Linked DNA regions of Homo sapiens. The protein of the gene in region 1 purifies or fractionates together with the protein of each later gene. This does not show direct contact. Each region holds a gene or a part of one and is shown on either strand. Other genes may lie near its edges. The genes, in order: STX19 and SNAP23.

Evidence for each region.
Region 2: the proteins of STX19 (region 1) and SNAP23 purify together in Homo sapiens (affinity purification with mass spectrometry; 3 studies listed by BioGRID and IntAct, with this or other methods). This does not show direct contact.

The regions. Positions count from the first base shown.
Region 1 is NC_000003.12:94,018,381-94,022,205, forward strand, and holds part of STX19 (syntaxin-19), read right to left. Parts: intron 119-3,825; exon of another isoform or gene 59-118; intron 1-58. UniProt on the Homo sapiens protein: Plays a role in endosomal trafficking of the epidermal growth factor receptor (EGFR).
Region 2 is NC_000015.10:42,529,977-42,533,764, forward strand, and holds the end of SNAP23 (synaptosomal-associated protein 23), read left to right. Parts: intron 1-1,436; coding exon 1,437-1,502; 3' UTR 1,503-3,082; downstream 3,083-3,788. UniProt on the Homo sapiens protein: Essential component of the high affinity receptor for the general membrane fusion machinery and an important regulator of transport vesicle docking and fusion.

The DNA.
Region 1 (3,825 bases):
ACAATCATTTCTTGAGACACTTTGAAGAAAAGTATTTCTCCTGTTTTTTTTCTCTTACCTTTTTGGCTCTTCCTTTATCACTATTTTCTTTTTCCTGGCTACTCCTTATCTCCCCCACCTGTAAATATTGGAAGATTTTAGACTGAGTCTCATTTTTATCCATCATCATTTTTTAGTCTCATGGCATTAAATGCTGTTTGTAAGCTGATGACCCAAATTTGTATCTCCAGTTTAGGTTGCTCTTAAAAAACTGCCTACCTGACAGCTGCATTTGAATGCCTCTATCCAAAATGAGCTCATAATCTTCCTGTGAACCCGTAAACTGCCCCATCTCTCTTCTGGCAACTCTATTTTTCCAGTTGCTCAGACCAGAGACTCAGAAGTCTTTTTTTGTTTGTTTTTTGAGACCGAGTCTCACTCTGTCCCCTAGGCCGGAGTGCAGTGGTGTGGTCTCGGCTCACTGCAACCTCCGCCGTCCGGGTTCAAGCAATTCTCCTGCCTCAGCCTCCCGAGTGGCTGGGACTACAGGCATGTGCCACCACGCCCAGCTAATTTTTGTATTTTTATTAACGACAGGGTTTCACCATGTTGGCCAGGCTGGTCGCAAACTCCTGATCTCAGGCGATCCGCCCTCTTCGGCCTCCCAAAGTGCTGGGATTACAGCTGTGAGCCACCGCGCCTGGCTGGAAGTCATTCTTGACTTTTTTTTTCTACATTTCATATGCAAGCACAGCAAATCTTGTCAACATCTCTTTCAAAATGTATTTGGATCTAGCCACCTCTTACCATCTCCCTGGTTCAAGTCCCTGTTATTTTTGTTAATTTTTTATTTTTGAGACAGAGTCTCCCTCTGTTGCCTAGGCTGGAGTGCAGTGGCACAATCTTGGCTCACTGCACCCTCCATCTCCCAGGTTCAATCGATTCTTCTGCCTCAGCCTCCCGAGTAGCTGGGACTACAGGCACATGCCACCATGCCTGGCTAATTTTTGTATTTTCAGTAGAGATAGGGTTTCACCATATTGGTCAGGTTGGTCTTGAACTCTTGACCTCATGATCCGCCCATCTTGGCTTCCCAAAGTGCTGGGATTACAGGCATGAGCCACCGCAACTGGTCAAGTCCCTGTTATTTTTCATCTTGATTGTTAACGATAGTCTCCTAAGTGTTCTCCTTGTTTCCTTTTTGCACCAACTACCCCCCATCCTGCCCCCACCACAAAACCTCTGGTCTTTTCTTAACACAGAATTCAGAGTTAAAATGTAGGTCAGACCATGTCATTCCTGTGCCTAAAATCCTCCTTTGGCATTATCTCTTAGAGGAAAAACTAGAGCCTACAAAGCTCCACAATGACTTCACCCCTTCTGTTACCCCTCCGACCTCACCTCCTACAACTCTCCCTTTCTCTGCTTCAGTCTCACTGTCCTTGCTGTTCTCACACAAATCTGGCACCATCTGGCTTTAGGGCCTTGGCACTTGCCTTCTCTTCTATTTGAAGTGTTCTTTCCCATGTAGTATGTGACGTTTTTCCCCAACCCAGTCCTTACTGAAATGTCACTCCTGAGTTAGGATGTTCTTTGTCACCCTATTTTGAACTATACCTTCTTTCAACTCTCTGACCCTTCCCAGCTTTATTTTTCTTAGCATTTTTCACTATTTAACATACCATGTATTTTACTTATTTATATTAACTTAATTGTCTACTTTCTCCTCCCAGTATTAACTCCATGAGATCAAGGGTTTTTATTCATTCTGGTACCTCATAGAGTTAATACTTAGAGGAGAAAGTAGAGGGTCTTTATTCTTTCCCAGCACCTTGATGAGTCTTATATTTACTTGAGTTCTTATGTTGAGATCTTGATATCTTAGATTTACTTGAGCTCTTAATATGTGCCAGGCACTAAGTGTGTTTTATGTTCTTATAAGAACAAGTATTGTCATGATCTCTATTCTATAGATAATGAAATTACGATCTCAGCTTTAGTAATTGAACCATGTTGTCAGCTAGTGGTAGAGTTGAGATTCAGATTCTGGCAGTATAGTTTGAAGGACTCAACTCTTTATACGACAGTATAGCATACTAGAGCATAGTAACTTCACTATGACATAGCATAGCTTTACTATGCTATGAAGGTTTTTCAGTGGTGTTAGATCATTTAGGGTGAGTTCTGAAAAGAGGCAATTAGGTCAGTTAAGTGGTTGGGAAAAGAGCCAGATCACAAGGGATAAGACCTTGAAATCTGTTTGTGTCAGGAAAAGGTGTTTTATAGATATTAAAAGTTTATTCGGAAACATTTGCTGTATTACTTTATTGCCACATGACTATATTGCTGAGCATTTTAAGTACCGGTGGGAAACATTTAAGAGCAAGTTTTTGTTGCTGAAATGCACTTAAAGCATTCTACTATTTATTTCACCTATTTTAAATACTTAATTCAAATAGCCGGTAATCTTTTGTTTTTGCCACTGATTTGCTATAGTAAAGGTAAAAAAGTTCAGTCAGTACAATTTATGTAAATAGGGGACTTCTAAGCTGGAAGGAGATTCCATACGCCTCTTCCTCTGCATATTTTTATTGTCTATATTCTACTTTACTGGCAAGGAACAGTTTCTCTACCTTCAGAGTAGAGCTAACCAAAGCTAGTGTTTCTATAAGATCCAAGGAAAAAAATGAGCTATGAATGATACTAAACCTGGAACAATTATGAAAGGAAGATTAGTCAGGAGGAATATTAGACGATACTATAGAAAGAATTGCCAGTTTTAGGTGTTAAAAAGTTGTTTTTGTCTTTCGTGTTTAATATTATTATATATATATATATATAATTTTTTTTTTGAGACAGGGTCTCGCTCTGTTACCCAGGCTGGAGTGCAGTGTCATGATCTCAGCTCACTGCAATCTCCACCTCCTGGGTTCGAAGCGATTCTCCTGCGTCAGCCTCCCGAGTTCCTGAGACTACAGGTGCCCATCACCATGCCCAGATAATTTTTGTATTTCTGGTAGAGACAAGGTTTCACCATGTTGGCCAGGCTCATCTTGAACTCCTGACCTCAAGTGATCTGCCCGCCTCAGCCTCCCAAAGTGCTGGGATTACAGGTACAAACCACCATGCCTGGCCAAATATTGTATAAAATATTTGATGCTTATCCAGGTATAGATACTTAAAGACATGTAAAACTATTGGGAAGTAATGTGGAAACTTTTTACCATGTGGCAACTTTGTGAAAGCAGAATTATCACCCATGTTTTATTATATACATCTGATAAGAACTAGTCTTCTTTTCAGTATAGAGAAAATTTGATGTTAAAGTAGGTTGGCTTAGTAATTTATCTTGTATAGCTTCCTAGTGTTCATTTTGTGGTTTAGTGGTATTTATGACTCCCTAATCTATAAGCTCTTTCTAGTATTACTATATTGATGCTGAAAATAAATTATTCCCCAAAGTGTTGAAGATACCATGTCGCATTTAATATAGCCATAAGCTTTTTAAATAAGCTTTTTAAAAATGTTATTTTTTCCCTCAAATTAATAATGCATGTACACAGGTTAACAAGTCAAGTCATGTCAAGGCTTCTAAAGATATATATCTGACCCTTACCTGCCGTACCACATCCCCTTTCCAATTCTCCATTCCTTAAAGACAGTCATAAAGGCAGTCATTTTCAGCTCCTTAGCTATATGTTGCATCTAAACTCCTGTTTCTAGGTAATTTGCATGTGTAGGTATTTTTGCTTCTTCAGTTTTATTTTATTTTATTTTTTTTGAGACAGAGTTTCGCTGTTGTCACCCAGGCTGGAGTGCAATGGTGTGATCTCAGTTCACTGCAAC
Region 2 (3,788 bases), on another chromosome or scaffold:
AGCCAAGTCCTCCCTGTCATGGTAGTTGGTGCATTTTGAAACCAGAGTTTTGGAATATAGTAGTTTTACTTAAACCTTCACACATGAAGCTTAGTATCTACTTTAGCTTTTGAGCGTGTTTTTTTCTCTCCCAAATGAGTTTTATTTTGTTAACTAATTTTTTAATTGAGAATGGGGTCTTGCTCTGTCGCCTAGGGTAGTGTGGTGGTACAATCACAGCTCACTGCAGCCTGCCTCCTAGGCTAAAGCGTTCCTCCCACATCAGCCTATTTTGTTAACTAAAAATAAATTAAGTTCCTGAATCCTCATCTCATGAAAGAGTCCGTAGGTGAAAATCTGTTCTGCAGAATAGTTCTTATGGAGTGGACACACGAAATAGAGTCATGTGAGTGAAAGAAAGTTGTGATTCTTTTTTTTCCCCCTTAACTTTACATGATATAAATATAGTGAAAGCGAAATTGTTTTCAGTGTTTTGATGTGTCACATGTAAAGTCATACCTTGGCCAACCGTGGTAGCTCACACCTGTAATCTCAACACTTTGAGAGGCGGAGGCAGGAGGATTGCTTGAGCTCAGGAGTTTGAGACCAGAGCAAGACCTCGACTCTACTAAAAAAATTTAAAAATTGACCAGGCATGGTGGCATGTGCCTATTGTCCCAGTTACTCGGGAGGCTGAGGCAGAAGGATTGCTTGAGTGTAGGAGTTGAAGGCTGCAGTGAGCTGTGATTGCACCATTGCATTCCAGCCTGGGCAACAGAGTGAGACCCTTTCTCAAAAAGAAAGGAAAAAAAGAAAGTCATACCTCATTAAAATCTCAGTGAACTTTAGGGTGAGTTTTTAAGCTTGGCTCTCTGTTAAATCACTTTTGATGGATTTAATTGAAACAGTGGTTCACAAGATGCTTTAAATGCTGCAGTCTGGGTTTAGGCTATATTTACCTGTCATTTTAATTCAGATGTTGGTGAGGATGGTAATAGATTCGTTTCAAAGATCTTTGGAAAGGTTATTTCAGTCTCTCCAGGTTAGACTTAGGGTGTCTGAATCCAGATGAGATTCTATGATTCAGTTCAGAGGACTCACACAAGGTCCAGATCTTTAACAGAGAAGAGCACTCTTTCATATTTCATTGCATCAAAAAATGCCATTGATTACAGGATGCATCCCAGTTTCAGGCATGTTAAACTATGAAAAAATGCGTTATAGAATTTATGAAATATTGGCAAGGTCTTATATGTTACACCTTTGTCATGTTTATATACCAGGGGTTTTCCAAATGAATTTCATATTCTGTTACTTCTTGCCCAACATGAGTTTTGTAATGTAACTTCACGTGGTTTCTTGGATTTTCTTGGTGTGTCAGTTACTCCAAGTGTAAAAAGTTTAATTTTTATTAGAGTTACTTACCTTGTAAAGCTGATATCTTTCTTGTTTTTCAGGCTGACACCAACAGAGATCGTATTGATATTGCCAATGCCAGAGCAAAGAAACTCATTGACAGCTAAAGCTACTGCTGTTCTTCTTTATCATTTATTCACTTCCGTAGCTCCTCCTTGAAAGTTATTACCTTTTCAGAGTTTAAGTTTTCGGTTCCACGCTCTTCTAATTGGGAGATAATATGGAAGAAGGGCCAGAGCAGTTACAGCCCTCCTTCTTTTTTGTTTTCTGTTGAGGGCCGACTGCTGCTCTGCCTTCCTTCTAGTATTTTCTTTCTCAATTCATACGCTTAGATTGGTTTTCATATGTCATGTTTAGTGTTTTCATCCTCCTCATATACTTCAGCAGGTTCTTTTGCTTTCAAGATTTGGAAGCATTGCCAAAGACAGCCATGAAGAAGGAAGCTGTAGAGGTGTTTTTTGTTGTTGTTTATTTTTGCTTTTGTGGTTGAGGGAAGGACAAGAGATAAGAGGTTGTTACCTCAGTAAAAACCTTCAGGCCACAAAGCAAAAAGTTGCATAGCCACAACGAAGATCTAGTTGGATATAGTTTTTGATTTAAGTTGCAGTTATAGCCAATTTAGGCTAATGCTTGGTTTTGGAGCTTTTATACACAACGTTTTTGTTAGGCATCACAGTTTTGCAACCTCTGCTCCAAAGAGAAAAATAGAATGAGTTTTCTTTCTTTTTTTTTTTTTTGGAGTCAGAGTCTCGCTCTCTTGTCCAGGCTGGAGTGCAATAGCGCGATCTGGGCTCACTGCAACCTCCGCCTCCCTGGTTCAAGCAATTCTCCTGCCTTGCCTCCTGAGTAGCTGGGATTACAGGCGTGTGTCACCACGCTCGGCTAATTTTTGTATTTTTAGTAGAGACAGGGTTTCACCATGTCAAGCTGGTCTTGGACTCCTGACGTCGTGATCCACCCGCCTTGGCCTCCCAAAGTACTGGGATTACAGGCGTGAGCCACTGTGCCTGGCTGAGTTTTCTTAAAGTGAGCTTAATTTCTGAACTCTTAGTGATTCATATATGTACATAAATCTGTGATCCCATTTCTTATTGCACCATTCAGGAACACTTTATATAAATGAGTGGCTTTTTATTTCATATTATTAGTAGTATCATGGTTCCATTACAGGCCTATTAACATCATACATTGTCATTAGTCTTTGAAGAAAAAATATGTAAATATATATGTGTAACATGAGAATTTCTCTCTAAAGCAGGGCTTAAAATTTTTTGGAAAAGTTTGACAAAGCATACCACATGAATTCAGATTTACCTCAATGCTAAGAATTATGTTTAGTTAGGAAAAAGGAAAGTCATTTTGACCTCAGGTAGAAAAATAGATTGCTTTGAGTTTTATGTAGCTTTAGACTTTAAAAAGTTAGAATTTATTCTGTAACTAAAAATTATTTGAAAAAATTATGCCTCTGGTTTAATTATTGGTGATTACACACTCTTTCTCTTACCCTTGTGTATTGAACTATGTCCATAATCAAGTTGATGTGGATCCTGAAAAGTGTTATGAACATCTGATTGGTATTTGTCACATTTATTTTAAAATTAGCATCTGAACACTTCAAAGCTGTCAGTGTGTATTGGTTTCACCAATAACCACTGCTTGATCCTTACAATTAAATTTTTTAACTAACTAATGGTATTGTTCTTTCAAATAGGTAACATGTTTCTATGACTGTTATTTGGGGGAAAATAGTTTCATCAGCTCTCATTTAACAAATTAATAAAGCAAAGATCCATACATCAAGAAACACTACAGCAGGAAGCTGCCTTTAGCATCTTTCCAGTATTTATTGAAAATATTGATGGGACTTAAACTTACCTTGCTAAAAATTTATTGTGAGGTTCATTTTAATCATTACTAGTCTTACTCACTTGAGCTTAAATACACTAGTGACTGGAAGGGTAATGGTTCTGTGTGAGAACTACAACTCACTGGAGAAGATACAGTTAATGTGGGAGCTTTCAAAGGCTAAAGAGGAAAATATTTAAATAAAGTGAGATGCAACTACACCCTCTGTAATAGAAATGCTCCATGTCAAAATGAGTGGTTTGGCAGGGATGGTAAATATGTAAAGTAAGGTGTAAAACGGAGGATTGTGCTTTACCTAAATGCCTTTCCTAAAACCATTTACCATAAAAAAAAATTTTAGCACTGTTCTGGATAAAGGAAATAGTTCTGAGAATACCAGCATGCTACACTCACAGTATGATTGGTTAGAAGCATGGGCTGAGGCATTATCTGAATTTTCACTCTAGCTGAAGTGACTGTAAGATCATTTCTGTGCCTTAATTTGTCTGTAAATGCAGATTAATACAAGCATACCTCAGATACTGAGG